Regions from separate parts of the Homo sapiens genome. Here region 1 is linked to region 2. The links come from fine-mapping of genetic effects on gene expression. A gene starts in region 2. The other region holds a variant in brackets. All regions are shown on one strand. Distances are between the middles of the regions.

Evidence for each region.
Region 1: its variant is fine-mapped to the expression of MAML3 in whole blood (INTERVAL, PIP above 0.99).

Annotation. Positions count from the first base shown.
Region 1 is chr4:139,862,557-139,879,205 of GRCh38, reverse strand. The region is part of intron 2 of MAML3 (mastermind like transcriptional coactivator 3); the gene reads left to right. Among named protein-coding and RNA genes, the nearest start is that of MGST2, 210 kb to the right of the region's middle. RefSeq lists an enhancer at 3,301-4,024. The variant C/G (reference allele first, on the strand shown) is at 6,629.
Region 2 is chr4:140,144,697-140,161,345 of GRCh38, reverse strand. MAML3 (mastermind like transcriptional coactivator 3) reads left to right here and starts at 7,162. Exons shown (of 5, transcript NM_018717.5): 1 at 7,162-8,486. The coding sequence starts at 8,019. RefSeq lists enhancers at 9,601-10,443, 10,444-11,288.

The DNA of each region.
Region 1 (16,649 bases), 280 kb after region 2:
TAACACTGCGGGCTGGGCGCAAAACAAACAAACAAAAAGCAACATAACACTGAGACTGCAGTTCAAGCAGCCTGTGTTTATTTCATTGCTAAATATTTGTATATGTTTAAATATGGCAGTTATTGTCCTGTTGATTCTCTGAATAGGACAAAGTAGTCTATCCTCCAGTGGTCCCTTCTCCCCAGTCCCAATGTGGTGAAGAGTGGGATTTTTCCTCCAAGAGAGGGTTTGTTATTCATTTTTCTGTCTCAGGATTTAAGGGCACAGTCTTATAGTGCCAGGCTGCTTTCCTTAAGATCTATAGAAAGACAGACCGCAAAGGAATGGATACTACACACATTAAAGGCGACACAAGGCTTATGTAGGGCCTCTTTCGGGCTGTTCTCCTCAGAGCAAGACTGCTCTCAGGCACAGAGGTCAGCCACAACCCTGTGTTCCGTGTTCTGATGCTCAATCACATCAAGGATGGCAGACAAGCAACTTTCCCAGGTGCTCCTGAGCTTCAGGGAGATGTTGCCTCAGCCGGATGCCCAACTTCATTCCATTTCCAGACTCTTAGATTCCCTTCCTTTCAAGGTGCATTCTGCTACACCCTAGGCCCCTACCCAGTGCACTCACAGGTAAGAGAGTAGGCCCAGCTTTATTTTTTCCCAAGAGGAGCCTACTAGCCTAAGGGTTCGACACAGGTGTAGAAAATTGTAAAATGGCCAATCATATCCTCCCTGTGTATATTCACTCCTCAAAGTCATGATATTATGGACCAAAGCAAGATACCAAAACAGTGTAACCTAGAGTGTCCAGCAATGTGCAGTCTGGTCAGGGAGATAAGGGCGATACAAGGGAGCGAGTAGTCAGTGCTACCTTACTAAATTTTACATTCAGGATTCAGGGCAGGGAGAACAGCAAGGGTCAGTGCAGCCTGGAGAAGACAAGAGCAGCCTCCAGAGGGCAACTGAGCTTCGAGATAGACCAAGAATGAGTAGGAGTTGGCGGGATAGAGGGTGGGTAGAAAGGCATCCTGCTGGCGGCAAAGCATTATTCCTTCCGTGGCCAACTTAGATTATAGCCAGGCTGGAGGGAAGGGTTCCGGTGCGGAATAGCGAGGCAAAATTTGAATGGGAGAACATTTAGAGGACTTTCTACTATTTTGAGTGTGAGACAGTAAGAATGTCTATCTGGACACAGCAGTTAAAATTTAAGAGAACAATGGCCATAGTGGCATTTAGAGGGAAGAAGTAACAGAACTTGGTGCTTGAATAAATGACAAGATAAAAGGAAATGAATCAAATATTTATGATCATAAGATTAAATATTGGGATGGTATAATAGTTTCTGAAAGATGATCACATGTATACATGTAAATAATCAAATCTTATTTACAGTATATTTAAAAGCAATTTAAACACGTAATTTACTTTGCTATTATTTATCTTATTCTTCTGTTTTATATTTCCAGTTTTCTGAGGTACTACTTGTCCCACACTCTGCAAAAGGTGTGAAGCAAGCTCATGGCTATTTTTTAAAAAGTTTTCGCAGCATTGAGCCACAAATAGCTACTCTGTGCTTTATGGTTGGGCTTTTTGTTTTTAGGTGTTTATTTTTTAGTAAATTCATATCACTATGAAAGTGGTTGTTTTTCTTAGAGTAATAACAGACTATCATATGTTCCTTTTGCTTAATATTTTTATTATAAAGATTTACTTCATCATATCTTAGCAATTATTTGAAGAGAGTCCTTTCTAAAGATAGTCTTTTGGAGCACACTTTAAACAGTTCCAAGCTTTAAAGTATATTATGTCATCGTTCATTAACTATTCATACAACTCTGGGCTCTTCTAGAGGTTATAATACTCTTCGGGGGGTGGGGGGAAATGCTGCTTTCCTATACAAAGATACTCTATTATATTTTGGTTCCTGGGCAAGATTCTCTAGAATTCATCCTCTTTATGACAACAAATGGTTTGCAGCGGATCTAGTACATAGAGAATCAAAATATCTTTCATGTTAGTTAGATTTCCAATACATTGTCATGATTAGTTAATATGACACATGAGATTATGCAATTTACCTATATGTTTTATTTAGTCAGCAGTAAATAGTGACCCCAAATTATATCCAAACTAATAACTCCCATTTATTAATATCATGATTTCCTACAGGAGGTTTTATAAACATATCTGCATTCTCTAAATGCTCTTCTTAGATCTGAGATGTTTGGGAATTTATATGGCCTGCTTTTCTGCACTGGGCTCTGGCCAATTCATACAAAGGATGTTTTAATGGGCTTGCTAGGCCAGGAGTACTTTCAGTGCCATGTGGAAGTTAGTCAGGGGTGCAAGAAAAAAGATTGCCTTGGGTGTAGAGTGCAGTCCACTTCAGGCAACGCCTCTGAGCCGATAAACTGCAGCCCCAGCCTGCAGGCACCCCAGGTGTGATGGCAACCCCTTGTGTACCCTCTGCTGGACACTGTTGTGCCAGGCACAAACTGCACAGCCATCGGTGGCAGCCTGGGTCCACATGATCATTCCCTAAAAGCCACTGTGAGTGAGAGCTAGGTTTTAGATCAGTGCAATAAGAATGAGTTACATGTGCCACAGAGTGCCAAAGTGTGCTCTTGCTGGGGCCAGTCAGAGCCTGTACTTCAAAGCCTGCGAATAGAAGGGTGATTGAAGGCCCTGGAACAGGAGGCGATTCACATCTGAGTGTATTGCAGCCTTCCTGGTAGATAGTGTTAGTTTCAATATCACCCATTGGTAAGAGTTTCATTAGTGTGGCAGAAAAAGTCCAGAGACAAGACTTGGAAACACACTTGCCCCTTGCATCCCTCTCAAAGCAGTGACAGGTTTAGAGTTTCCAAACTCTAGAGCAGCACTGTCCAATCAAAATAGAATGCAAGCCACCAGTGCAAACTATGTGATTTTTAAATTTCTATTGGCCATGTTGCAAAAGGTAAAAAGCAGCTGGTGACATTCATCTTAATATATTTTTATTTAACCCAGTATATTTAAAATATGATTATGTTAACATGTAATCAATATAAAGATTACTAATGGCATATTTTACATACTTTTTTTTTCATACCAAGTGTTTGAAATCTGATGTGCCTGTTATGCTTATAGCACAGCCCAATTCGGACCAGCCACATTTCAAGTGTTCAACAGCCACATGTGGCTAGTGGCTACTGTGTTGAACAGCGCGAGTTAGAAAAACACCAAAAATCAGTTCTGTGATCAGAAAAGTAATAGGCAAGACCAGAGGTGATTTTTTTTTTTTTTTTTTTTTTTTTTTTGCTGTTTGTGAGTCTCTTACTCTTTACATTGCCTTTTAAAAACTATGTAATCCTACACTGGATGGAATGAATTAGTGCTTTCCAGTGCCCTCCGCCTGGCCAGGCTCTGGATAAGCCAACCCAGCCGGCTTTGTGCCCATGCTGTTAGAATTCACCTGATCTGTGTGGCTCACTGCCTTCAGAGATTTCCATGGCCATTTGTGTGTAGTGCAGCTGCTTACTGGGAAAGGAACGCCCTTATTCATGACACCCTGTAGTCAACATATAACATTTGTGAGCAGCCCTGGGGCCATATAAACATCCTGCTGTGAGGTCAGGAGCACCTGACCCCCTATTAACATGTCAATGAGAGTGGCTGGTGCGCTGGGCTTGTTTTCTAGGGTTTTGATGAGCCTCATTAATTATGTTGAGAAAGAAAGGTGTGCAGCTGGAGAAGAACCCACTTAGCTCCACGTGAACATGAATAATTGGACAGTTGGCAGAGTGTTAAATTGGCGGTCTAGTGAGAGAAACTGGTGAATAAACACAATTCCCCAAAACACTGCAAAGCAGTCACAGTTCTCTCCGTTTTTGCAGCGCTCCCACCACTTCCACCTTCTCCTGACTTGAGAACTGCCTAGGTATGACATCAGGTAGGATCATATAAGGAGCTGCCTTCGTAGGGAGGGTGGCAGAGTGTAGAGGTCGGGAGTCAGCTCTGAAGCCACAACAGATCTTCAAATCCTGACTTTACCACTTCAGAACTTGCAGGACCTTGGGCGGGTTATATAACCTGTTTGTACTTTAGGTTTTCATCTAGAAGATGGGGATGATCAGCTGGGCATGATGGCTCACGCCTGTAATCCCAGCACTTTGGGAGGCCGAGGTGGGCAGATCACGAGGTCAGGAGATTGAGACCATCCTGGCTAACATGGTGAAACCCCATCTTTACTAAAAATACAAAAAATTAGCCGGGCGTGGTGGCAGACGCCTGTAATTCCAGCTACTCGGGAGGCTGTGGCAGGAGAATGGCGTGAACCCAGGAGGAGGAGCTTGCAGTGAGCTGAGATCGCGCCACTGCACTCCAGCCTGGGCGACAGGGCAAGACTCCATCTCAAAAAAAAAAAAAAAAGGAAAGATAGGGGATGATAATCAATAGAGATATTAGGATGACTCTGTGTATTAGTTTACGTTAAGCATTTAAAATAGTATCAGACCCATAGGATGTACTGTGTTTTTAAAATTAAAAACATTAATCATATCGTGTGATTTGTACTTTTTTAATCCTCTAGGAGAGTGTAAGTTTCTTCAGTTTTCCTTTAAGCCAGTTTCATTCATTCATTCATTCATTCAACATATTTTATGTGCCTGTGGTGTCTAGGCATTGTGCATACAAAGATAGAAAGATTCTGGAAGAAATATATTATCATATATATGTGAAAATTTTATAGACAGGGACTGTAAACAAAATGGTAAAAGTGTATTACTGTTCTCTTTTAAAAGCCAACTGTTAGCAAGTTTCACTGGTGATTTTTTTAAAAAAAATCAATCTTGGCTCTGACAAGATTGTTCCTCCTGCATAATTTACCTCTATTTAAAATAAAAACTATTTATTTTTCATATTTTAAAGTACAATATTAAAATGCCATCTTTTTTGTTTATGTTAAATGATTTTAAATGAGGAAAACATCTCAAGACATAATCTAGCCACTCCCCACTCCTAACTCTAGAGGTCTGTTAGACTCTTTGAGGCCTTACAGTACCCTCATTGTTTCTGGTACCTCAGTAGATGAGAAAAATCATTTCTCTTTGTTAAAATCAGAAGCTAAAAAAGAAGGTGGGATTTAATTTACCTGAACATTTTATAACATCTGATCCATTTACATATTAAATGCAGGTAAACACATATTCCAAAATAATGAAAAGACCTTTTAATAAAACTTAAAAACTTAACTCCAAAGTAAAGAAGAGCTCTATTGGAAAGATTACCATATTAGTTATCTATTGCTGTGTAACAACTTATGCTCAAAACATAGCCACTTCAAACAACAAACATTTATTATCTTACATGGTTTTCAAGGGAATGCAGGAGCAGCTTAGCTGGGTGGTTATGGCTCAGGCTCTTCCATAAGGCTACCGTGAAGCTGTCAAGTGGGCTGCAGTCATCTGAAGGCTTGACTGGGGCTGGAGACTCTACTTCATATGTGGCTCCCTCCCATGGCTGCTGACTGGAGGCCTCAGTTCCTCACCACATGGACCTCCCCACAGGGCTGCTTAAGTTTTCTCATGACATGGCAGCTGGCTTCCCCTGAGTCAGCTTCAAGAGAGACCAAGGAGGAAGCCACAGTTCATTTCATGACATACTATCGAAATCACACACCTTCGTTTCTTCATTGTTTCATTCATTAGAAGCAAAATAATTTAAGTCCAGCCACACTCCAGGAGAGAGGGATTAGGTTCTCCCTTCTGAAGGGAGTGTCAAGAATTTGTGAACATATTTGTGGACACCATAATGACCATGAATGGCTTTGGCATTTTATAACATGCTTAAGTGGTACTGGCTCAGGAAAGCTTAGGATGGGAAGAACTGAGCTGGCAAAGGTGAGCAGCTCCATTTTTGAGGATACATAGATCAGATGTGCTGGAGTGAGAGGAGGGATGAAATCATAGGCTCCAAACATACCAGAAATTTCTTTTCTTTCACTTAGCAGTCCTGGACCTGATATCAAAGCTGTGCCACATAGCAGAGAAGCAATACAACATTCTGTGGTCAAATGTGAAGCCTTGCTTTTATTTAAAGTAGGAAACAAAATATCTGCGTGATTATTTATTTATTTATTTATTTATTTATTTTTTGAGATGGAGTCTCACTCTGTCTCCCAGGCTGGAGTGCAGTGGCACAATCTCAGCTCACTGCAACGTCTACCTTCTGGGTTCAAGCAATTCTTCCTGCCTCAGTCTCCTGAGTAGCTGGGATTACAGGCGCCCACCACCATGCCCGGCTAATTTTTTTAATATTTTTAGTATAGACGGGGTGTTGCCATGTTGGCCAGACTGGTCTCAAACTCCTGACCTTAGGTGATCTACCCACCTCAGCCTCCCAAAGTGCTGGGATTACAGGCATGAACCACTGTGCCCGGCCGTGTGATTATTTTTTTAACTCTAAACCCAACCTTGTTATTGATAGGATTTTTATTTCTGCCTTAAGAATTCTTTCCATCACCTTTTCATTTTAAGACACTTATCATTTCTATCCCTTCCTTTGTCCCCTGTGCTGTCCTTCCTTCTGAAGTTCTCACCCGGAAAGGCATTACATCTTTGATGCTGCAGTTCACTTCTGTGTGCACCCCTGAGTTCTTC[C/G]AGTACATCCTCCAGTTCCTCTGCTTTCCATTTCACAACCTGGTTACAGTTAGTCACACTGTAACTTCCTGTTACTGAGTATTTCAGGGGCCAAAGCTCTCTATGCCCTATGCTGTCCACTTAGTCATCTCTCTCCACATTTGTATTATTCACAGCAAGATGCATGCACACAAATCCTTTAAGTCCGTCAGGCTTTTCTTTCCATTTCCCATTCAAATATGAATCACCTAGCAACATTTATTGAAGACCAATTGCACATGAAGCTGTGTTCCCATTATTGTGAGCCTCACAAAGGAAGTAAAAGCCATGGTCCTTGCCATTAAGAAGTTTATCCTCTACTAAAAGCTGGATTAAAAAATTTTTTTTAAAATAATAACAGCATACAGATTCCCGTTTATATTCAATAGAGTGAAATGTTGTCCAAGTTACAATGATCAAATGCAAGGGTTATTTCTCTGTATACCTTTTAACTGAGAAAGCTAGCCATCTTTTGGATTAGGTAAATGCATGTGCCTTGATGAGAAATACTGCTACAAAAAATTAGTGCCTGCTGTTCACTTCCTAGTATTGTAAACACGTTTCACCCAATCTGGTGAAATTTCAAGGCATGTTTTTGAAACTAAAATAAATAAATAAAACATTTATTAATCCTCTGTAACAAAGATACACCCAATTAATGTAACAAGTAGTTACAACCGATAACTGAAGCATAAGCAAAAGGATAATTGTATTAGTGTCCTAGGGTTTTCTTCTTTTTAAAAAGACGTCAGCACTGTGCATTGTTTTACCTTATTTTTAATGGACTGTTGATCAGAAAGGGGAGTAGGGAAACTGGGTTGCGAAGGGTTAATAAGGAACAAAAAGTGCAACCTGAGGAAGACACAGCTCAGGGAGGAGGACCCAGGGGAGTGTGGAAGCCCCTCAAAGCTCATTAGAGAGATTCAGCTTGTGATACAAGAAGCAATGGGTAGTCATTGTAGGTTTCTGAAAAGAGGAGAGTACTATCTCGATCAAAGTGATTGGCAGGAGAGATGCTAGGAAACAGCATACCTGGAACAAAATAATTAGGACCTGACTGCGTGTGACCCTGGAAATAGGTCCAAAGAAAAAGCAAGAGATTGTGGAAGTGACTGTGGGCAGGGGTGGGGACAGGAAAGGAAGAAAGGCGTCAAATTTGACTTCCAAACCTCCATACTTAAAAAAAACTGAGGATGGCCATTGGTTCCTGGCAAAGTGAGAGCTGAATTGACCAAAAGTTGTTTACTCTAATTGGCTTAATTGTCATTTGTACATGTAATGAAAGTTATTTTTCTGTGGAGAAATAAAGGAGTAACAGTGTGAATTTGGGGCTTATCTAGGTGGTAGGTAAAGAAAGACATATGAGTCGAACCACTTCTTGAGGAATGTCATACATGAGAAAAAATGTATAGTCTAGCATCAAGTCTGGAGATAGCTAGAACTAATGACCATGAAAAAATGATATACCATGAAAAAATGATAAGCACACAAGAAATAAAATGTGTGTATTGTGTGACTGCATGTATATTTGTGTATGTACACACAAACATGCATTCCAAAAACATCTGAAAACCCACTCATCATCATGTTAGCCCTAGGTAGTTCTAACTAATGGAAACACAACTGATACTTCTTTTCCTTTCTTTCTTTTTTTGCTTATCTGAATTTCCTCATTTTTCCTGTTGAATGTATATTGCTTGTATAAGTTTCTTCATAGTGAGAAATTGTTTTAAATCTTTGGTGAAATGAAAGATATAGATACAAAAATTAGTCAAGTGTGGTCCCAGCTACTTAGGAGGCTGAGGTGGAAGGATCTCTTGAGTCCAGGAGGTCGAGGGTACAGTTAGCTGTGATTGCGCCACTGAACTCCAGCCTGGGCGACAGAGTGAGACCCTGTCCAAAAAAAGAAAGAGGTAGGAATAGAGTTTTCAAGGTCAGAATTTAGAACAGAGGGAGCCTTGAAATAAGGCTCAAGATGAGGAAACGAAGACCCTGATAGTTATGGGATTTATTGCTAGGCTTTCAAAAGAAGAGTATGCATTTTCTAATGCTTAAAAAGCAATTTTTCATTTCAAGGCTTAAAAATATTAATAAATACATCAAAAGAAGAATGGAGTTATTCTCATCTGCTAGAACTTGGATTGATCTAAAGCAGTGGTTCTCAACCTCAGATGTTTTGTTCCCCAATCACCAACTGGACATTTGGCAACATCTGGAGATAGTTTTGGTTGTCACAACTTGGGGGCCAGGGGTAGGGTGGGGTGAGGGGAACGGGGAATTGACGCTGCTACTGGCACCTAGTGGGTAAGAGAGCAGAGATGCTGCTAAATATCCTACAATGTACAGGACAGTCTCTGCACAACAAAGCATTATCTAGCCCAAAATGTCGATAGTACAGAAGCTGAGAAACTCTGATCCACAGTAAGGTACATATTCACAGTGACCATTCATGGAGCGCTTTATGTGCCAAGACCTGTACTAAGCCCTTGACATGAAACATTTAATCTTCAAACGATCTTGAAATTCAGACATGTAAAGTTAAGTAGTCTGTTTAAGGTCATATGGTCAACACTAGAACTAGGAACCAAAGCAAAGCCTATTTGAATCCAAACCTGAGCTCTTAAACCTTATGCAATTTTGCCTACATGTTGACACTCACCGAATGAAATGGGCACAAGAAAGCCATCTCAAGATCACAGCCAACATTCTGATCTCATATTTTTTTCTACTGTTGCCAAGGCAGTGGCCTGTTAGCTTCAGAACGTTTTATCTCCTAGAAGGTAATAGGTGGTAAAACAAATTGCAATTCTTTTCTATATTTCTTCCCCCTCACTCTTCCCTCCATCCCATCTTTCAGATAAAGGTTTCTTTTTTAATGAATATTACGTGTGTTTTGTTGGAGTTTGGCCGCGGGGGTGGGGTGGTATTTGGTTGGTCATGCACATAGGTGCTGGTGTATTTCTTGTCTGCATGCCTTTTGATCATGGAGAAATACTCTGCAAATGTCTGAGAATTAGTACTTTCTAGCATCATTTTGGCAAGACATTTTTATTTAGCTCTTATCCAGCTTCTTGGGTCTTTTCACCTTTATCTCTGGATAAAGAATTCTTGTCTGCAGCATCCTAAAGTTACTTCAGCCTCCTTGTCATTTTCACTGAAGGACACTGCATATTAAAAACAAAAATTTTATTGCCTTCCAAAAGCTGACTTCCTTGGGTCCTTGAGAACATAGATCCGCAGCTCGATGGATCTAATTGCTTGCTTGTCAACTGGAGTAAAGAGTAGAGTTCCCCAGTATCATGTACCTTCTGCTGCCAGCACTCAGCCTTTCTTTTCTGCAAACTAGGATTTTTAAAGAAGTTTGACTTCCATATACTAAATTGCTATGGAAGCAAAAGAATTGGAACATACCAATCAGGCTTGTCAATCTATCTTCTCTTTGCATGCTTTCCACACAAACATGGGATTGAAATAATCTGTTCTAATGCTGACATGCAGAAAGACCATAGCACAGTTCTTGAGTGCCCCACCCATTTCTGTGGCTCCCTTAAGATTATTTTAGCAATTAAACGTCAACAGCAATAAATAAAATTGAGAAAGAAATTTGGATAAACCTATGCACAGGAAAAGACTTATTTTAGAATTCTTTTCCTGTGAGCTTTTACTGTAAGGATTGTGTTTTAATACCACTGCTATCACTCGTGGAGAAGGAGAATTTTATTTGTCTCCTTTATCCTGTTTTGATTTTTAGAGAGAAATTTTACCAGTTCATTTTTTTTTCACATTCTATTTCTTTTGACACAAAGTTATAAAGACAAAATGCCACAATTTTTAAGTGAAGACAATGTTTCAAGCATTGTTCCACATACTCTGCACACATTTCCTCATTTAATCTTCACAAGGCTTGTCATAAAGGTATTATTACCTCCATTTATATATGAGAAGACCGCGGCCTAGAAACATCAAGTGAATTTTTTCTAAGAGCACGTATCTAGTAAATGGCAGAGCAGAGATTTGAACTCAGAGACCTTTGAGTTTAGGGCCCAGGCTTTGCTTAACTTCCGTGTAAAACTGCCTTTTAGGTGACATATTAAACTTGAATTTCAATGTTATGATCTTTCAAAGAGCTAACAGCACTTTCACATTTTAATTTATTTTCGTAGTATCAAGCTGAGTAGCTAAGTGGAATGAATTCATAATGTCAAATGAATCTTGAATGATCCTATGACCAAACTTCCATATATATCCAATATCAACAGTACTGTCTCTAAATTCCTGCTAAATTTGTAGGTAGTATGCCTTGCAGATTGAACAGGGAGTGTTTCTTATACAACTTGCACAGTTGATTGCACAGTCACCATTTTCCTAAATAGCTCCTAAGTGTAATCAGATGGTCTAAAACAATATGTAGGATTTTAGTTTAAAAAGTGTGGCTGTTTTACATGTATACATACACACACACTCACACCCACAGATGTGTTTCCCTGTTTCCCACAGTGCCTAACACAACCCTAGGTACAAAAGAAGTGCCTTATAAATGCTTGACAGATTGGACTTCTCTCTAGAGAAATGTGAAGGAAGAGAACTCAATTCCAGAAGAATAATTATGGTATGCTGAAGCAAAGACCCAGTTCACTGATTTTTGTTTAAGAGTCCCGGGGCAGCCAGGCCATCCCACAGGGGCTGTGAAGGCAGTGTGGGGCGGTGGCCTCAGCCAGGGGATGGACCTTCACTTACCAGCTGCAGGGTCTTCAGTAAGTTATTAGCTATCCTTGAATTTCATACATATTTCTTAACTTCAGTTTTCTCATCTGTGAAATAGTGATAATAATATTCTCAAAGTTAAATTATTATTTTCATTGTCATCATTATTATTTTAGGTAGGGCACCAGAGAAACAGAAACCATTTTATTGAAAACTTCCAAATTTGGAATCAACAGATTCTGGTTCAGATCTCACATTTGATGTTTAACAACTATGTGCCTGGGGCAAGCCTCTCCAGTTTCCTCATTGGCCAAATGAGATGATAGTGCCTACCTTGCAGGCAACATTAAATATGGTGACTGTCAGGAGCTTGGTATGTAGCAGATGCTCAACAAATGTTAACTCTGATTATCATTTTCTGCTTACCAAAGCTGGTAAATTACTTTCCTAGAACCTTAGCTTCATTTCTGTGGCACCCTCTAGGCCTATGGATTTTAACTTTTTTTTCTTTTTGAAGTAACACATCCCTTTGAGAATGCAATGAAAGCTACAGCAATATCACCAGAAAAATACACATTCCCAAAGCAAACATGGACACATTTGCAGGGGATTCAATGATTCCTGGGTTAAGATTTTCTGGTTTAGGTCCAAGAGGGTAAAAAATACATGACAATCCAGACGGAATGGTTATTGGCTTTGTAAAAGGATTTATTGTAGTATTCCCATTGCAACTTTCCCAGTATCATTAAAATCGGATTCCATTTACAAAAACTGACTTTATTTAGCACATTTCAAGAACACATTTTATTTCATTAAAGCAAGCCTCTTTTAACAAAACATATTTATCAAATGCCCATTATGTGCCTAATAAGGTGGTGGGTGCTGCGAGGAACAAAAGAAGCTTAACATGTGGTCCCTGCCCTCTGCGTTTCTTTCTAATTGGAAAGGCAAGTGAACAAGGCAGCATGAGATGTATTAGCGCTATATGCTGATATAATCAAGTACTAAATTGTGTATGCTTGTGTGGGTGGGCGCACAAGCCTCACATATCATTCTCTGACCTTGAATTGTACACAAATCATTAGCGTCAAACTGGAATTGCCGACTGCTCCCCCACCCTTCGTCTTCGCTTGGCTGACTTCCATCACAGCCTCTCCCTCTATGTCTGAAACATACTTTAGAAAAGAGGGGTGAAACAAGACAGTGAGGAAGAGAGAAGAATCAATAAAGAAAAAAATAGGTCACCTGTCTGTGGTTACTGCCGCAAATAGATTCCATCTTGGGCGGGGTCTGACCCAGGAGCCCCCAAGCTCCGTGAAAACCTCTCTGGGGGACACACAGCAGCTTATCTTCCTTGTTTACAAATTAACTGCCTTCTGTCGGTGACTGAGTCTGAAGAGGCAGAGGGATGGTGCAAAGAAGGCCTGGCTACCAGGAATAGGCACTCAGCCACACTGAAGGTCCAAACTTTGTTCTGTATTCACTGCCTAAATCCATGTGCATTTAGCACTGGAGAAGATCTGCAGGAAAATCGCTGGGTGAGGAGAGACAAGCGTGTCCCTCCCTAACATTTGTGGAGCCCAAGGCAAGAGTGCAGATGTACCACAGGCCTCATCCTTAATTGTTATACTTCAAGCTAACAAACAATTAAGTACAATATGTCCTATCAGCTGATCTTGACAAGTATACCTTCGTGGCCACTGGGAAGGCCAGTTTGATGTAGAATCCCTGCCTCCTGGGGGTTCTGCAGGTTGGGTTCCCTGGACCACCCAATTCCCTTTCCATCCCTGGCTCTGTGTTGTACCTCAGGAGCTTCCTACATTTGTGGGACATTCCTGGCCATACCTCCAAGGTCCACCTGCATGCCCCTTGGCCATTCTTTGGGCCTAGAGGTGCACACAGCTGTGTGGCCACCTTCCAGAAGACGGACCTGGGAAAACAGACTTGAAATTCTCTAAGCAGAGAATCTGGGGCTCCGGGTATCCAAAGAATGGTCTAGAGGTGGGAACACAGGCTCTTGCCTTGCTTCTGCAGACTACTTGCGGTGGTAGACATGTATGTGGTCAGAGGAGGACCCAAGCAGGCTCTCTAAGGCTGAGGCCAGCTCAGGAGCCCCTCAGTGCGCATGTCTAAGGCGTAACTGCAGAAAGGAAGAAAGACTTGGTGAGGAGATTAAGGCAGAGTCATTAAGACTGCCTAGTTCATTTTGGGGGGAAGAGGATAAGTTGGGAAGAGTTAAACAAGAGGAAAAAGAGGCTGATGAAAAGAAGGGAGAAGCCCAGAACCTGGACCACTTCTACAAAGATAGGGACTCCTAATTTATTATTGTGTTTAGTTAGAGAATGAAAAAAAAAAAAAACAAAAAAAAAACCTTTTACAGAGGTCAAAGGGCTCTGTAATTCAGGGACAAGGGATATGAAAGGCAAAAGAAGGATGGTTTTGGAGCTAAAAGCAGGGACTAGGAATGATTTCTCCCCAAGGTCACCTGGATCCATCTTATTTCTGCACCTTCCCCTCTTTCATGATGGATACTGGACCCTTGAACCATTCAAGAAGAAACATTCCACCTTATTGTATCCCCTAAAAGAAAACACAACTGAAGGTTAATTTTGATTCTCCAAGGAGAAAAAGAATAACTATTTAGACAAATAAAGTGAAGTATTTCATTGAATTTTTAGCTAGACAGAGAGAAGATAGTTGCTGTATTTGAAATTGCACTATTTGCAGAATTAAAGAGGAAAGGATATTTTAAATTTTGCCCAAATATGCTTGGTAGAACTGAAGGAAACTCTAATGATATTTCAACATTATAATTTGTCTCCATTTCACAAATTCTTTGTTTTATAAATAAAATGTTTGAGTGATTTAAGAGGGAAGAACATAACAAGTAAAGCTTTGTGGCAAAAAAAAAAAAAAAAAAAAAAAAAAAAAAGCAAGTTTGCATTACTATTTTCCTAAATGTATTTTTATCCATATTTCACTTTTTTTCTGATCAGCTTACTAGTCAGAGAATTTGAGATTCCTTGAGAGTCCTATAATTCTGCGTAACATTGTCCCTCTTGCTCCCAAACATGTTGATGGCAATTATAGGAAGTGAGTAAGTGAACATAGTTGACTTTTAGTCATCAGGAATTTATCATTCAAGATTTCTTTTTCTTTTTTTTTTTTTTTTTTTTTTTTTGAGACGGAGCCTCGCTCTGTCGCCAGGCTGGAGGGCAGTGACGCGATCTTGGCTCACTGCAACCTCCGCCTCCCAGGTTCAAGCAATTCTCCTGCCTCAGCCTCCCAAGTAGCTGGAATTACAGGTACACACCACCACACCCAGCTAATTTTTGTATTTTTAGTAGAGACAGGTTTCACCGTGTTGGCCAGGATGGTCTTGATCTCTTGACCTCGTGATCTGCCCACCTCGGCCTCCCAAAGTGCTGGGATTACAGGCGTGAGCCGCCGCACCTGGCCCATGAAAGATTTTTATTCATCACAAGTGAAGCCAACAAGTAAGTCATAGTATGAGTAATTAATTATTATACTGGAGTGTGAATTTGAAGCCTGTGCAAGGAACACACCCATCAGAAAGTTTGTGAATGAGCCACACCATGGCCCAGAGTCTGTATCTTCCTGCAGCCTCTGCTTCCCTGCCTGTCACCCACCTCAAAGTAGCTCTCATGAAATGATCATTTGTTATTATTCTTCATCACTATTTACCTTTTACAAATGTTATTAAGTTCATGTCTGAAATTGCTACAATAGTGATGTCATTGACACCTATGGTGAAAAATTATATTTTATGGCAGATATTATTTTACAAGCTTCTGTAAGTTTCTTTGGTCCTGTATTTGTCACATCATTATGGACCTGAAGATGTGCCCACTAATGAAATATTTTGTTACAATTTGTTGAGTTTTGTGGGGAAACTTGTCTGCTCTTGCAGTTTGTTCAAATTTGGCATCAAGAATGTTTCTGGATATATTCCCCTCCCATGTCAAGGGTTTTTAGTACAAAAAAAAAAAAAAAAAAAAAAAACCCATGTTCTGGTATTACCACAGAAAGTGAAGGTACAGAAATTAGGAAGTAAACACAAATATAGCACACTAATTGTAACTTGTTACATTTGTAGAGCATTTTATGTTCTGAGTGTTTGAGCAATCACCACTTTCATCTTCCTTTTGAGAGAGGAAGAAACAATGTTACTCTGCTCATTTTATAAATAAGAAAAGGCAGCTGGGCACGGTGGCTCACACCTGTAATCCCAGCACTGTGGGAGGATCACCTAAGGTCAGGAGTTCGAGACCAGCCTGACCAAAATGGAGAAACCCCGTCTCTCCCAAAAATACAAAATTTGCCAAGCATGATGTCACATGCCTGTAATCCCAGCTACTCAGGAGGCTGAGGCAGGAGAATTGCTTGAACCCTGGAGGTGCAGGTTGTCGTGAGCCAAGATCACACCATTGCACTCCAGCCTGGGCAACAAGAGCAAAACTCTGTCTCAAAAGGAAAAAAAAAAAAAAAAAAGGGCACAGGAAAAAGTGTGTAATGTGCCAGAAATCAGAAATCTCACAACAAACAAATGAACAAAGAATAAGACTTACCATATTTTTTAACACCTGAATGTTAAACATTATGCTAAGCATTTCACATATATCAACTCCCACCTTCACAGCAACCCTGTAATGAAGGTACTACTATTTTTTTTTTTTTTTTTTTTGGAGACAGAGTCTCACTCTGTCACCCAGGCTGGAGTGCAGTGGCGCAACCTTGGCTCGCTGCATCCTCCGCCTCCTGGGTTCAAGCGACTTTCCTGCCTCAGCCTCCTGAGTAGCTGGGACTACAGGTACCTGCCACCACGCCCAGCTAATTTTTGTATTTTTAGTAGAGACAGGGTTTCACCATGTTGGCCAGGGTTATCTCTATTATTATTCCCATTTTGTAGAAGAGGCAAGTGAAACTCGATGTATTTTGACAGCCTGAGAAGGGTCCCATAGCTAATAACTGGAGCCAAGGTTCAAATCCAGCCTGTACTGCTCCATATTCCGAGCTTTTCCACTCAACACTGCTACCTACATTTGGGTCTCCAGAGTCCTATTCTAGTTCTATTCTAGTCCAGTGCCCTTTCCACTTCTTATATGGGTATTCATTGACTTATTAATTCATTTGTTCATTACAGAGCACCTCCTCTTTGCCATGCATTGTGTTCTGGGTGGCAGCTACAGAGATAGTGAAGAGGAGGAGTATCCACTCTTACCCAGCACATGTCTGGGGAGACCAATGGGTCAACAGCAAGATTACAGCATAGCATGAG
Region 2 (16,649 bases):
CAAAGACTTGGAACCAACCCAAATGCCCATCAATGATAGACTGGATAAAGAAAATGTGGCACGTATACACCATGGAATACTATGCAGCCATAAAAAGAATGAGTTCATGTCCTTTGTAGGGACATGGATGAAGCTGGAAACCATCATTCTCAGCAAACTAACACAGGAACAGAAAACCAAACACCACACATTCTCACTCATAGGTGGGAGTTGAACAATGAGAACACATGGACACAAGGAGGGGAACATCACACACCGCGGCCTGTCGGCGGGTGGGGGGCAAGGGGAAGGAGAACATTAGGACAAGTACCTAATGAATGCGGTGCTTAAAACCTAGATGATGGGTTGATAGGTGCAGCAAACCACCATGGCACATGTGTAACAAACCTGCACGTTCTGCACATGTATCCCAGAACTTAAAATAAAAGAAAAAAAAAGAGAGAAAACACACACACACACACACACACACACACGCACACACACAGTAAAAATAGTTTTAAGGCTTAAAAAAAAATATATATATATATATATACACACTTTTTTCTTTTTCTTTTTTATTTAACAAACCAGAAGGCATAGTTTAATTCATGTGTGTTAAAAGCACATTTGGGCCAGCTCTGGTTTCCATACATCCTAGGGTTGTTGGGAATATCACATTGGTTAATATATGGAAAATGCGTTGGCCAGTAGCCGACACCTGGCTGTGATGTACAACAAATATGAGCCCCTTCCCCACCTGACAGACAGCAGAGTGCAGTTGGGGTGAGGGGATCTAAGAGGCTGGTTCTCCTCCGCCTCTCTTCCACCTCTGCACCTCTCCAAGTCAATTTATAGAATACCCCAAACCCAGAGACACAGCATTTTGAAATATAAATCATATCGCACTATGATTTTCTTATATTGCATTCAAACAGTTTCTATAGGATGGCAGTGCAGTGCTGCTCTCCTCGGGGGCTACTGCCTGGCACTGGCCACACACAAGTCCCTTTCTGATTTTGTAACTTTGGTAAATTGTGTGCTACCATTCCCTCTTTCATTTACGTGTCCCCCACACACAGTTACAGAGCTCTGTCATGGACAGCCCTGTGTTAGGTCCCAAGACCAATAAAACACAAGTGAGACATAGACAGGTAAATAAACAGTTATAATAGAGTGTAATAATATAAGTACAAAGACAGAAAAATGCCCACTATTCTCAGAGCACTGAGAGGGTGGCTAGCTCAGAATGGGGGCTGAGGGAAGCATGGCCAGAGACAGCTTTCTACAAAAATGACTCCTCAGCTATAACCCCTCTGCAGCAACAAACTTCTGTTAAAATGAGATCTGGGTAAAACACAGTAATTTTATTTTATTTTATTTTATTTTTTTGAGACGTAGTCTCACTCTGTCACCCAGGCTGGAGTATAGTGGCGCCATCTTGGGTCACTGCAACTTCCGCCTCCCAGGCTCAAGTGATTCTCCTGCCCCAGTCTCTCGAGTAGCTGGGATTACAGGCGTGCGTCACCATGGCTGGCTAATTTTTATATTTTTAGTAGAGACCGGGTTTCACCATGTTGGCCAGGCTGGTCTTGAACTCCAGACCTCAGGTGATCCGCCTGCCTCGGCCTTCCAAGGTGCTGGGATTACAGGAGTGAGCCATCGCCCCCAGCCAAAACACAGTACTTTTAGTTTTGTAAAAAGGTAGAATCTTAAAATGAGAAGGAACCTTAGGAACTTGGTTACATATTTCTTCCATAGCTTGGTTCAAATTGGGTCTCTGCCATTTTTAAGCTGTGTGGTTTGGGGAAAGTTCTTTAAGTTTTCTGTGCCTCAGTTTCTATATCAGTGAAATAGAGGATAACAATAGAACCTGGAATAGAGCAAATTTTCAATGACTGTTGGCCATCACAATTAATTATTTCTAACGTTAACAGTTTAGCTGATTATGGGCCTTCAATAAATTTAAAAATTCATAAATATTTTCTTTCAGAAGTCTTCAACTTTGTATATGAAAGCCAGACATTGTTCAAGTCAGATGCCTTATTATATTATTTAACCGTGAGAGTAGAAATATATATGAAACAGAATGAGAGACTTTTAAAAAATTTCTCTGCCATGGACTTTAGATAACCTTTCCCCTAATAACCATGAAACTATTATATACATATTAAAATACATGAATAAGAAAATAAATCCTATTAATTCATACTCCTCTCAAAATTTATGACATGGTCTAGGACTTAGTAAACCCCTTCTTAATAAAAAATGAGAATTAACAACATACACAGAATCTTGCGAGAGGTATTTAAATACTTAAGAAAGCAAATTTTTGAAACACCCCTAGTTCATGAGGCATGTCACCTATATGCAATTGCTTCATAGGTAAAAGGAGATCATTAAAATAGCTCCAAGAGGCCAGTTTTGTTAGGCTAGACAGAGTGCATGCTTCAAATGTAATGAAAATCTATAGCTTTAAAGATATTACATAATCTTTTCAGTTAAATAAGGCCAACCTTTTCTCCTAATAAGGAGGTTTTATTACACAGGGATAGATATTAATATAACATACTCAAAGTACTAATGCTGAAAAAGGCTAGTCAAATTCACCCTTTTGGGATTTTGCCTTTGTGTTGCTACTTCCTCAATATTTAAAGGTCAGAATTCACACACCCAGCTGAGGTTAGGAAGGCCCGGGAGATCTGGACTAGTGATTCTGGTAGAGCAGATGGCAAGGGCCTTGTGGTCGTTGACTTAGGCTACGTGCCCAGGCAATTGTTGTAAATTTAAGTGGATTTAGAACTGCCTTCAGTTTTCACTCTCTCCTATACCACAGAGCTTTCTAGAGTGTGTTCTATTCTGTGGGACATAACAGGATTTTGGCAATGTTAGGTTAAACAAAGTTAAACATGCTTTGCTTCAAGATTTCTTGTGACCTTCAATGTGGTAATAACTCTTTGGAGAGATGCAGTACAGAACATGTCCTAAACTTACTTAGCTCAGAAGCCTTTCTGGTAAAGCATCTTACGGAACCAAGTTTTTCAGACACACTTCTGAAAACGCTATAATAATACATCCACTGCATTGCCAAAGTAAACAGTGTAAATCAGCTTAAGTCCTTTTAATGGCAGCCATTGTCCCAAGGATATAGTCTAAACTGGATGGCCTTGAACAATCCAGGTCCTGCTTGTCTCCCCAGCCTCCATCTCATTTCTCATCACACTCTTTCACACTCACAATCGTGTGAGAAGGAACTACCACTGGATTTTTTTGGAGACGGATTCTTAGCTCCTCCAAGCATGCACTCTTTTGCTTGTTCCTACACCCACTCCATATTAATTCTATTATGGCATATACTGCCCTGATTCTAGTTGGCCGTCATTGAGGTTGGGACTGTGTTCTATACACTGTTATTATGCTGTTCACCCAGTGCCTACCACAGTGTGTGGCACACAGAAGGCCATAAATATATTCATGGAATTATTGAAATGATACCTATTGCTAGACAGCTGAGGGCACATCCCCCGGCTGCTAGTAATTTAGGAGTGCCTGGGCCCCACTTTGGAAAGATATAAAGGTTTGGTTGCTCATATGTGGGCAGCAGAGGGTTCCTATTCTTCTTTAGCCACAAGATACTCTTTTATGAAAGCAGATCTATTGATCCATAGTAAGAGGGAAACAGAGGGGGCACATAGACTGGAATTTCCGCACAAAGGTCTCTTTCTTGTCACTGGGACACTAGGCCTTCTCAGGTGAATATAGGAAGATGACACAGACTTGGTGTAAAGGAAATGGAACCTGGTTGAACTCCTCAGAACTGCCAACTTTGGCTCAGAGCCAGGACAACAGGATAACCTGGTGTAGCTACTTATTCATCAAGCCCTTCTTTCCTTGGCATCCAGAGAGATATCATCACAGTTGGGGATGCAGTCATAGTAATTTCTTTCTCATCACTGCTATGGCATCTCAATTATTATTATTATTATTTTTTGTCATTCAAGAACAATAGCATTGATGCTGTGTCTACCGCTTTCATCCTGAAGTTTTGCCTTGTAGCAGGCTCACAGAAAAGACAAAGATGGTCATGCTGTCAGTGTTGTGCTGTGAGAAGGGACTAAAATTGCTTCTCCAGAACTTGGATTTCTCTATGACTTTCAAGGAGTTCTTTAGGAAGGTGACCAACAAAGCTGGAAACCTTGCAGGACCATATCATGGGATCTGGAAGTAGCCAGCATAAAGGTCTCTGTTTCTTCTAAGGTCACTGGAGTAGATCAACATCTCTAATTCAGGGTGACTGGCATATGTTGCTCAAGATGCAAGCCTTGCTTGCTTCTTGCTTCTTTCTTCTAATCTTCCTGCACAATGAGAATGGGGTTTCTGACCTCTGGTACGTCACAGCAGAGTCCTGCACAGGTCGGTTTCTCAAAGATTCTTCCCCTCTGGCCATCACACAGTTTCACAGTTCTTCCTTTCCCCACATCTGGGGCATGGAGCTTGTGGCTGCCACTCCCATTTTGGAGAGATGAAAGACGGGTGCCTGTGTGTGCGCTTGTTTGTGTGTACACATGTAACAGTTTTTCTTTTGGGTATAGCCCATTCATGCACTAAAATCAGGCAGCAAAGTATACTGTGGTTGTGCAAGAAGAGCTTCATTTGTCATTGGGGAACTCTGTGGTAAAACCACAAAGTGTGCTGTCCCACCTGCTGGTTCCCCAAAGGGAAGGATGCAAATTCTTGTGTCTTTTTGGTTTCCCTTCATGGTAGGAGAGGTAAACAGCTTGAAGGGAATACATGGTGCTGCTATTGTTGTCATTTTTTCCCCAGAATGAGAAACTCTCAATGAATAATTAAATTCTGAGTCACAGGAAAAAGCTAAAATGAGAACCCAAGTCTCAAAAACTAAAGACCCAGTGCTTAAGACCCTCAAATTTGTTGCCTCTGTAAATCAAACTGCAGTCTTTTGTGGGTGATGGAGGCAAGTGAAGGAGGAGGGATAACAATTAAACTACAGTGTGGCCAGGCGCAGTGGCTCACACCTGTAATCCCAGCACTTTGGGAGGCCAAGGCAGGTGGATCATCTGAGGTCAGTAGTTTCAGACCAGCCTGGCCAACATGGTGAAACCCCGTCTCTACTAAAAATACAAAAATTAGCCAGGTGTGGTGGCGTGCACCTGTAATCCCAGCTACCCAGGAGGCTCAGCCAGGAGAATCACTGGAACCCGGGAGGCAGAGGTTGCAGTGAGCCAAGATGGCGCCACTGCACTCCAGCCTAGGCAACAGAGCAAGACTCTGTCTCAAAAAAAAAAAAAAAAAAAAGAATTAAACTACGGTGAAGAGAGAGCAAAGCGAATGCAGAGTCATAGCTTCCCCTCTGTGGCGAAGCCATGTGTTTCCTGAGTTAATAGAGATATTATTTAGTGAATATGTGAAAAAGATAAAGGCCACTTTGCTACCTCTTTTTCTAATTTCTTAAAATTCTCTACATATTTTCAGAATCTGAACGGGCTCTTTTGCTACAGACGTAGTCCAGTTAAATTTTCTGACTGAGACTTGAAGAAGGGCAGTTTGATACAGAAATTTGTATATTAACTAAATAGCCTTCAGAAAAAGTGTGGCAACTTCAATGAAATATACACTCTCTTAAGTTGGTTTTACTGCTTAGAAGTAGCCTCACACCGTATTAAATATTTTGCTGCCCATTTTGCCATATATCCAGTGAATATTAAAAATATCGTTCACTATATAGAACTGATTAATTGAAGAAAAATATAGCTTCTTATCGCTGACATTATGAGGTTAGAAATAGCATCCTGTGCTAATCTGCAATGCCAAGAAATGAAGATGGTTTAAATCAGATCTCATGACTAATGCATAAGATCCAAAGTTCTTTTATTCCTGGCTATTTTAGAAAACTGGGGTGTATTTTTACCCTAAAAACTAATTCTTAAGATTTATTGAAATAATACAAAATGACTTATAATTAACATCTCACAATCAAGATTTATAGTTTACTGATTATTAGAGAAATAATAATTTCTCCATCTTAATTTTTAAAAATATGTATATGCAATGGTTTAAGTCCATATTCAAGAATATTTGATCCTTAGTTGTTATTTTTGTTTTTAGATAATATCGGGAAAGATAATGTGCTTTAATAAAATGGAAAGTTTAGATTGATTTCTGCAGTTGCTAGTCCATTTTAATTGTACTTATTGTGAATTCATTGAAATGGAAAGAAATATATCCAGCAATAAAGTAGGCCTGTTATTTTTGCTTGTTTTTGTTTTGGTCATGACAAACTGTGAAATGCTGTGTTTTTTCTATAGTTCTAGTCTATGAAATCTGCAATCTTTCCACTTGATTTACGAAGGACCTTAATTACTGCTGTCATTAGCACCTAGTGTTCAAAACAGTCTGTTTAAATGTACTGTTAGTCTCACCTCCAAGTCCCTGCTTGCTTTATTTTTTTCCAAGGGTAAGTAAAACAATAATTGACTTAGTAACAACAATCATTATGTACAGTGAGTTAAATATTACACATTTTTGATGCCTATTTCTATTTATTTAGAATTTGGTATTTGTGTGTTCAGTCTGGCCTAGACTTGGAACAAGTGTCCGTAAGTAGCGCTGTTACTAGCGCAGACTTATTACCTGGGTTTTAAAAACAAGTCACTCATTTGCCTTTTTCTTTCCACATGGATAGGGATGACAGACAACTGCTGTAAAGCTTCAATGTTTCTGCCTGGTCATGCACAGTTCTGCAATATAATGCATAAATGTATAACAACAACTTGGGATCGCTTGATACTTTCCTTGGAATAAGGAAACCCTACCAGGCGCGTCCCCGCGCACGCGCGCGCGCATACACAGACACACACACTCACACACGCTCTCACGCACACACACAGGTCAAAAGTTGATTTATTTCTGAGATCCCCCCAGAATCTTTCTTCTCTCCGTCGCCGACGGCTCTGGGCTTCTCGGCGGGGCGGTAGTGTGGTTGGGGGCGTAGGAGGGGCGCCGGGCGCCGAGGCGACGGAGACGGGAGCCGGGTGCTGGTGCGTGCCGCGCCCGCTCCTGCCGGGTGAGAGTCCGGGCCGGGTTTTGCGCCGTGTCCGCGGGCCTGTCTCACGGCCTCCAGCCGCCGCCGCTGCCGTGTTTACTGAGCTCGCGCGTCCTGATATCACTCCGCTGGCATGGAGGAGGAGGAGGAGGTGGAGGAGCGAGAGGAGGAGGAGGAGGCGGCGGCGGCGGCGGCGGCGAGCAGTTGATCATTGTGATGGTGGCAGGAGCAGCGGCGGCAGCGGCAGCCCAGCCGAGCGTTAGGTGCTGCTCTCTGCGCGGCGTTTTGCAAAGGACTTCACCGATCTACTTTTGCAGTCGCCTCGGACTGTCCATGTGTTTACTTCCCCCAGCCCGAGGATTCGATATCTAGGTTCCTGTGAAATGCAACTGAGCAGCCAAAGTACTTTGAGAACACGGGGCGGCATAAACACCAAAACTTTTTTGTGGAAGGAAAATGCAATAAGCAAGCTTGCCGTTTTCCGATGCGGTGTGGAGTGAGTGTGTGTCGCGCGTGTCCGCACTGGAGGCATATGCTTGTGTGTGTACATGGGGTGTGTTTTTCGGTATGTAGGGAGAAAATGCTTGCCAACCACCGGAAATCTCCTGGAATTTATTAGAAAATAATGGATTATAAAAAGAAGGCAAGCAAGGAGCGGATCTCCCCTTGAGTTGCAACCCGATTTGCTGCTGGCTCAGTTTGTTGTGATTCTTTTTGTTGATAGGTGTCTGATGGTATTCCGATAACGTTCCCCCCTTTTCTTCCCCTTGAGCTTTTACAGTTTAAAAAAAGGAAACAAAAACCACCCCAAAATCTCCCCCCCCGTTTTTTTCGCCCCGTCGGGATCGCCGTTTCCATCCATGTGCTTGCGTCTCCCCCGCGTTCCACTTAAACTATTTTAATCCTTGGACCCAAGGAGGAGGCTGATAGGGGGGTGGATAAAAAAAGTTCTTCCAAAATAGTGTGCCCGGGGAGCAGGATGGGGGATTTCGCAGCCCCCGCTGCTGCCGCGAATGGCAGTAGTATTTGCATCAACAGTAGCCTGAACAGCAGCCTCGGCGGGGCCGGGATCGGTGTGAATAATACTCCCAATAGTACTCCCGCTGCTCCGAGTAGCAATCACCCGGCAGCCGGTGGATGCGGCGGCTCCGGGGGCCCCGGCGGCGGTTCGGCGGCCGTTCCCAAGCACAGCACCGTGGTGGAGCGGCTCCGCCAGCGCATCGAGGGCTGCCGTCGGCACCACGTCAACTGCGAGAACAGGTACCAGCAGGCTCAGGTGGAGCAGCTGGAGCTGGAGCGCCGGGACACCGTGAGCCTCTACCAGCGGACCCTGGAGCAGAGGGCCAAGAAATCGGGCGCCGGCACCGGCAAACAGCAGCACCCGAGCAAACCCCAGCAAGATGCGGAGGCTGCCTCGGCGGAGCAGAGGAACCACACGCTGATCATGGTGAGGGCGCACGGGCAGCGGGCTTGCGGCGCGCGTTGGGGGTGGTGGTGGTGGTGGGGGGCGCGTGGAGCTTCTTACATGGGGGTACAAGGGTCTGATTTGCACGGTGGGTGAGGTGGGCTGAAGCCTAAGGGTTAACGTCAACTTTTCTTAGGGAAAAAGCTGCCGTCGTCGCTACCTGTTAATCTGTCAGGGTTGTCAGATTTGGGGAGGAGGGGGCGAGAGGGGAGAAGCCAGTCACGACTGCGAGGGGCGGAGGGAGCCTAGAGGAGCGTCGGAGTGAGGTGCTGGAAAAGTTTCCCCCCTTCCCTTTCTTAAGATACCGATTTGAAAGAGTGAACCCCTGAGTTGAAACCTTGCTCCTCCTCTTCGCCGCTCCCCACCCCACCTCTAGCCGCGCCGCCTCGCCTCCCCAGACCCGTCCCCCTACGCCCACCCCTCTCAGCACATCCGCCGGGTGCGTGGAAATATTGATGCTGTCGCAGGTTCTGGGCGGGCACCAGGCCCTCAACCCCTAGGGGGGAAGCGGGGAAGGAGAGCCTCTCGCCTCCTCTCCCCAGCTCACCCCCTTTGGGCTGAGAAAGTCTGAGAGTTTTGTGAATGAACTTTGAAGTGGGTGAGAAACGAGCGAGGGTGGCTGCGCGCGGGGGTGCTCGCGGGAGCGCGCGCGGATGCGGGGCGCGGGTGCGCTCCGCTCTTTGCTCGCGACTCGGGGCTAGCCCGGCAGGTGGAGCGGCTGGGAGGGTTAAGAGGGGAGCGGCCTGGAGGGGGCGGGAGGGGAAAGCAATACCCAGGGTTTGCGCCAAGAGGCCCCACCACACAACTTCGCTTGGGATTCTTTCCTTTTTTCCTTTTAAACTTGCGTGCACGGAGTCTTTCTCCGCTTGGCGCCCCCTGCCCCGCTGCCCGCCAACTTTGGGGGCCTGCTTAATAAGCCCAGAGCAATGGAAGGTAGCAGGGAGGTAAAAGAGGCTTAAATGGCTGGGTGGGCGGGTTCGAGGTAGGATGAGCAGCCAATGGCTTAACTTCTCCAGGAGGAAGGGGCAGTTCCCACCCCCCAAGCCGGAGGCTAGAATCCTTTCTCTTATCTCCCCTCTCCGGTTCTTTTGCTTTCCTTTCTGGGTGAGGGGAGGCCGGAAGCTTGGGAAAGGTGTGTGCCCCCCCCCCCCGCACCGCGCCGCCCGGGTGCTGGGTGGGCCAGGCGACGGGAATCCTGGAGCGTGCCGGGGCCGCGCGCCTTCGCCTGTTTCCCGTGCAGACCGCCCAGCGATCGGCGGCGCAGAGCCCGGCAGGGGCGGCCCTCCCGTCGTGCGGTTTAGAAATCGCACACGTTCCCGGTCTGTGAGTCCCCGGCGCCGGGGTGGTGCCAGTGCTGCCGTGGGCTTTCGCCGGGGGCTCGGGCCGGCGCTCGGTGACAAAGAGTCGGCTTGGGGGAGGGGAGGCGACGCCGCAGTGCTCGCTCCCCACGTCCCCCCACCCCGCACGTGAAGAGGAACAATTTGTTTATCTTGGGCTTCAAGAATCCTTCCCTCCTCCCAGTTCTCCGGGGGCGCTCAACCCCTCCTCCCTCCCCTCCCAGGTCGGCGCGATCCTGCCCAGTCCCGCCGGCAGCACCTTCCCTCCTCCTCTTCCTCCTCCCCCTCCCCTTCCTCCTCCCTTCCTCCTCCTCCAGCCACTCTTGCCCGCCTTCTTCCTCCCTTTTGGAACGTGGCCGTGGGGGAGGGAGCGGGAGGCGCTTTGTCCGCCTCGCGGCCCAGCTCAGACCCCGGGGCCGCTGGGCTGGGAGGGGTGCTGCGCCCCGTGGCCCTGCCCGCTTCATCGCGGCTGTCCCCGCCCCGCCGCGCCCCCCATGCCCCCGCGTCCCTCCTCTCCGCTCCCCCTGCGGCTGAGCCTGCCCCGAGCGCGAAGAAGGGGCCGTCTCGGTTGGTTTTGAGGAAGAACGACAGTTCGAGTCGGGGGAGGTTCTCGCTTTACAAACAGGAAACCGAAAACCACTGACACACTGTAGTTTTTCTGATTGTAGCCGGAGGCGGGGCCGGTCCCGCATCTCGACTGTAGCTCCGGTCCCTTTCTCCAACCTATTTCTCTCCCAGCCCCCGCCCCCCTAGCGCCCTTCCACGGAGGAGGAGATTCACTTTGTGAACCTGAGACTGAGAATTTAAGAGGCACTGAAGGTTTCATGCCTGCCCACCCCGCGTCCTCTTTTCGTGTATTTGTACACCCCACGCGCATGGATTGCGGAGAAATGGGCTCCTTTCGGGAGGCTCCAAAATTCCCGTGCCACAGAATCTCTCACAACCTTTGGGGATCAAGGACTGCTGTGGCGTTTACCTCGCCAGCTGGGGGACCCTGGAACAAAAGCCAGTGCCGTTCCCAGTGCCGGGTCTCTGGACACGGCAAGATGAGTAGAGTTTGCGACCAGAAACTTTCGGTGTTTGGGTTGTGTTCTCTGGTTTCCGCCCTGGTGGAGGGAGGGCTCGGGTGCGCGCGCCTGGTTTGTGATACACTCGCAGGTGGAAGCAAGCCCAGCCTCCTGACCTTACTGGGAAGAAGACAGCAAGCCCAAGCCACAGCTTACTTTTGAAAATAGAAAGATAATGCTTGCTTCAATAGACAGAGACATCAGCTGTAGATTTCATAGTGAATCCCAGTTTAGCAAATTAGCAACAAATAGACTTGAAAGATGACTGCGTGAAAATAAAATTTTCTGTCATTTTATGACAATGATTTAGCCTGTTGATTAGACTTACGCACTAATAAATGCCAGGGCTGTGTACAGAATAGGAGTGTATTTTAGCTTCAGCTGTTTCACATGCATCTCTCACTGGTATGTGTGATGAGTGTGATGAATGTAATGTAAGCCTTAACTCTTAAGCAGAGTTGCAAGTAAATTCTGTGTACCAAAAAAAAAAAAAAAAAAGAAAGAAACATGCTCTACAAGTTATATTTCCTTTTAAAATAATTAGTTTAAAAGTTAACCTTGGCTTCTGAGAGTATTTTAACAGTCTGTATTGAGGTAAAATCTCAAAAATAGAGGTTGTAAAGAAAACGTTGCTCTTCATTTTCTTGAATTGACTGCAGGATTATAGTTGTACTCCAGTGAGGCACAGAACAATTAAATGTAGTTCTCAGATTGGGCGCTCTATTTGGAAAGCCCTAAAGAAAAACAATGATCACCCACAACCAAATAATAATAACGGTGATATAAAAATAAAGATGAATAGGATTCTTTACTGTTTCATTGGTATTGTTTACTTTCTAAGGACCAATATGTCCGAAGTACTAAATATCGATTAATTATCTTTCTGCCTCGCTTGGATTAAGAAGGCAGTCTAATGAGGGCTTTGCCTCTTTTGATTTGTTTTCCTATCTTACACATTTACAAGAATGGGCATGAAAAACAACAACAAAAAAATAGCAAACAAAAAGCAGAGTGGGTGAGGGGTAAAAAATTTTCCTTGGCTCCAGGCTGCCACAGAGGGGGCTGGGTTCTGTGTGAGTCCTCACCAGCCCTGTTGATAGAGCAGGTGGCACAGACCTGGGTTTGAAGCTGCACTACCTCAGGTATTAGGTCCGTTCTGAACATGTAGTCAAATGATCCCATCCCAACCACCACCACTTTATTGACATAGTTTTTTTCTTCCCCTCAAAGACTTGGTGAAAATTATTGACTTCACCTATCAGAGAGCCTCAGTTGAAAAGATGGCTTTTAATTATTTGTGGTAACAAAAGGGGGCATTGTTTATTTGCTGTATTTGGAACTGAGGTCCTGGTTAAAATTTTAAGGCAAATTTCAATTGACAAGTACATTTTCAAGCTGAGCAGGCACATCAAAAAGCATGACAGTGCACAGTTTTCAAAATTTTAAAATGGTGATAGTCTTAGTTGACTTAGATAAGACCATATTATTTTCATGACCTCTTCACTGTATTAGCACCATCGTAACTTTCAGAGTGTGCTTAATTTATATACAGCTTACAGACTGCATAAATCTATGTGACCCCTGTTCTGAAGAGCTTATCACAAAAAATTCATAACATGCATTTAATAATAAATGCGTTATTACCGAGTATTGGAGACAACTACAACCCATCCAAAATGTTCCATCCATTCCTGGAATAGATTCAGGAAATGTCAACATATTAGTCCACTGCTGAATGTCCTTATACGTTAATCTGGCTTCCCATTTCTTACCCTGTTGAAGGTAAATTACTGGCTCTGTATCAATTTTTTTGGCAAGCTCGTATTACCAAGCTATTTCTACATCTTCCCTATGATAACCTTTTCTTTGGCTTATCCTGTTCTGCCGCTAGCATGGGTAACAGGACAGACTGTCTTTCGGAAAGCTTTCCATTGCCCAACACAGCATGCCTTAAGTTTGTGGAAAACTTTTTGAAATTTTGTTTTTTCTGTCCTTCATATGTATTTTTTTCTTTTAATTCTCAAGAAGCATTTTTTTAAGCTCCAATACATGTTTAATTCTATTATGTTATTTGGTTGTGGTATATTTTATTTAGTACTGGGCAGCCAGTGGTCAGAAAAGTAGAAGCAGAGTTAGTTAAGCATTAATCATAATCTACAAAATGCTCTTCAAGCTGAGTTCCTTCCCAGGGAAAGCCAAGTTTTCAGGAAGCTAGTATGCTTGATACTTTCTATCCTGTCTCATTAGAATTATAAGGGCAAACTTTAGAATCTTTTTTAGGATTTCTGCCACCTGATAGGAGAAAAATGGGCAGTCCTGTACATAGTTTACTGACATCTCTGGAAGAAGAAGGATGAGGAATTTAATAGTAAAATAGAGTTATATGGAGTTATTTTCTGAATATCGCTGTGAGACTAATGGCCAACTGTTGTTAAAGAAGTTTTCCTGCCCATTTGGTTGAGATAGGAATATAAGGCATTTCTCTCTCTCATGCATGCACGTGCACACACACACACACACATTCACTCATTCACTCACTCACCCTGGTGTGAGTGTCATAGAAGGGATCCAGTGTAAGAACCTGTTTTGCATGTTAAATAGTAATTCTTGGATATATTTGAAGTACTTGTGTGATTACTGTTCCCTGTTTGTTAAGTAACAGTCCTGTCTTATACTCTTGAGCTTAAAAAGGCTAAATTCTGTTGTCTTTTTCCACATTACCCATCTTGGAGAACTGTGAAATCAATCAAACAGACATCAGACTCTTATAAAGAGGAACATATTTAAAACTCACTGTCAAGATTTTCATAGTGTCTACCTTTTAAGTCTCCCAAATAGCTTTACATTTTTCACTCTATTATTCAAAGGCTGATGGTTGAGTTTTCAGATCCCCTGGCTGCTTGCTTTGTTTTTCCTTCCCCCCACCTGCTGCCAACCTTTTGGTCTTTTCAGTGATCTTTAACACCGTTATCAAAGAGTGGGAAGAAGCAATAAGAAGAGAAAAAATTTAATTTTGGTGCTCCTGACTCTCAGAACTAATGAAACAATCAGATACAATACCATTTTGGATTTAGTATGGATTTGCCTTTATTCTTACTTAGCACAAATAATAAAGACTGAGTTTCTAATTTCATTCATTCATTCAGCAGCATTGGTACATTGTCCATAGTGTTTCATGGAAGTTAAGATACTAAATCACGCTCTTGCATCCAAGACTTTGACAATATATATTCTCTGTAGATTTTCAGTATTATTCTAGCCAGATTCAAGGGCGTAACAATTTTTTTTTTTTTTTTTTTTTTTTTTGAGATGGAGTCTCACTCTGCCGTCAGGCTGGAGTGAAGTGATGCAATCTCGGCTCACTGCAAGCTCTGCCTCCTGGGTTCAAGTGATTCCCCTGCCTCAGCCTCCCGAGTAGCTGAGACTACAGGCATGTACCACCACGCCTGGCTAATTTTTTGTATTTTAGTAGAGACAGGTTTCACCATGTTGGCCAGGATGGTGTCGATCTCCTGACCTTGTGATCTGCCCACCTCAGCCTCCCAAAGTGCTGGGATTACAGGTGTGAGCCACCGCACCCGGCCAGATTTTTAAAAATCAGTATAGTCATTGGCACTAACGACAGCAGTTTCAGGCTTCAGGGTGTTATATCACCTTTCCATGATTTTTAAGGAAAATATTATAATATGCTTTACTTTCCTGTTGTTTCATACCAATTTGACATTGGTATCTGCCAAATAAGTTAATTTGCAGATGACTGCTCCAAAATTACAGTATCCCCCCACAAATTAAATTTTTATTACAAATACAGCCTGCTTTCCAGACAGATTCCAAAAATTCACTATTTAGTTTTGTGACTTGGAAATGTAGCTTCTGAAAAATCAGCTGTCACCAAGAACTGATTAATTTAGTTTAATTTTTTTGTTGTTTAAATCTAAGAAAGTTTAAAGAACAAAAGAAATAGGGTTAGATAAAATTATGCAGAAAATGGAGTTGAGGGCCTGCTGTATAATAAATACTTAAAGATCATGGGGTTCCATTCAGTGGATCAGAGAAGGAGCACACTTTTTTTAAAGTCTACTTGGCAATTCCATCTGTTAAACAGTGGAGGGGTTTTTGAGTTCCTTTCTCCATTTGGGACAGAAGCACAGCATTCGGCGTTCTCTGAGGGCCGCATGCACGCATGGATAGGAGCAGGAAGTTACTACTATGGCAAGCTGTGTATACTATTCTTGGAGAAATTTAATTAAAAAATCTCAAAAGGTGGCCGGGCACAGTGGCTCATACCTGTAATCCCAGCACTATGGGAGGCCGAGACCGGTAGATCAGTTGAGATCAGGAGTTTGAGACCAGCCTGACCAACATGGTGAAACCCCGTCTCTACTAAAATACAAAAATTAGCTGGGGATGGTGGCACACGCCTGTAATCCCAGCTACTTGAGAGGCTGAGGCAGGGGAATTGCTTGAACCTGGGAGGTGGAGGTTGCAGTGAGCCGAGATTGTGCCATTGCACTCCAGCCTGGGCAACAAGAGTAAAAATCCTTCTCAAAAAAAAAAAAGAAAAAAGAAAAAAAAGGCCAGGCGCAGTGGCTCATGCATGTAATCCCAGCACTTTGGGAGGCCGAGCGGGCAGATCACGAGGTCAGGAGTTCGAGACAAGCCTGACCAACATGGTGAAACCCCATCTCTACGAAAAATACAAAAATTAGCCGGGCGTGGTGGCGCATGTCTATAATCCCAGCTACTTGGGAGGCTGAGGCAGGAGAATTGCTTGAACCAGGGTGGCAGAGTTTGCAGTGAGCTGAGATCGTGCCACTACACTCCAGCCTGGTGACAGAGTGAGACCCTGTCTCAAACAAAACAAAACAAAACAAAACAAAACAAAAAAATCTCAAAAGGCTTGCAGTACTTCCTCTGACATAAAGAAAGTGATTCCTCAATAATAATTTAGGCACCTTTTAATTATATTGGACCTCCCATTGATTGGAAATGACCTTTATGCTGAAGTAGAACCTTTTAAAATGCTAATAACTAACATTCATCCCCCTTTTGCAATGGCTTAACAACTGTAGAAAACTTAAGTGAAATATTTAGTTTTTAACTACCAACTTCCAGAATTTTCCTAACTCCTTTTATTGCCATCCTGTTGAGTAGAATCTGGTTGTGTATCATTTCATGTTTATGGACCCTCCACCCCTCAACTGTTAACAGTGTTTTACTTCCATGGGTAAAGGAGGTTATTAGGTTACACTGCTGTGTATCTCTCCTTCCCTTTCCCAACATCTTTCTCCACCTCCCGAGCACGTCTGGACAGGGGCTTCTATCTCTTCAAAGGAAAAGGCCGAAGTGCTCTAAGTCTATTTGTGTAGATTCAACCTGGGTTGCAACTGTGACTCAAAAGGATTGCACAGCTCTGAAAGACATGCTCTGCTTGTGCCCTTTATTCTCACTCTGGTTGGTTATTTTTCTTTGTTTGTTAGATGCTGAAAGTAGCTCAGCGATTGAGAGTGAATCTAAAAGGCTGGGTACCCAGTAAAGGGCTTGAACTAGTGTTAAGGTAGGAGAGGCAAAAAAGGATGAGCATTTTGGAGGCATCACCTAGAATGGATATCAGAGGAGAGAGACATGTGAGAGCAGGTGTGGGTAAACAGACTATATCCTGGTGCTTTGGGAGTTTACAGAAGTAAAGCATGCTTTTAGTAACCTATTCTGAACTTGGAGAACTTGCTGAAACTCGAATA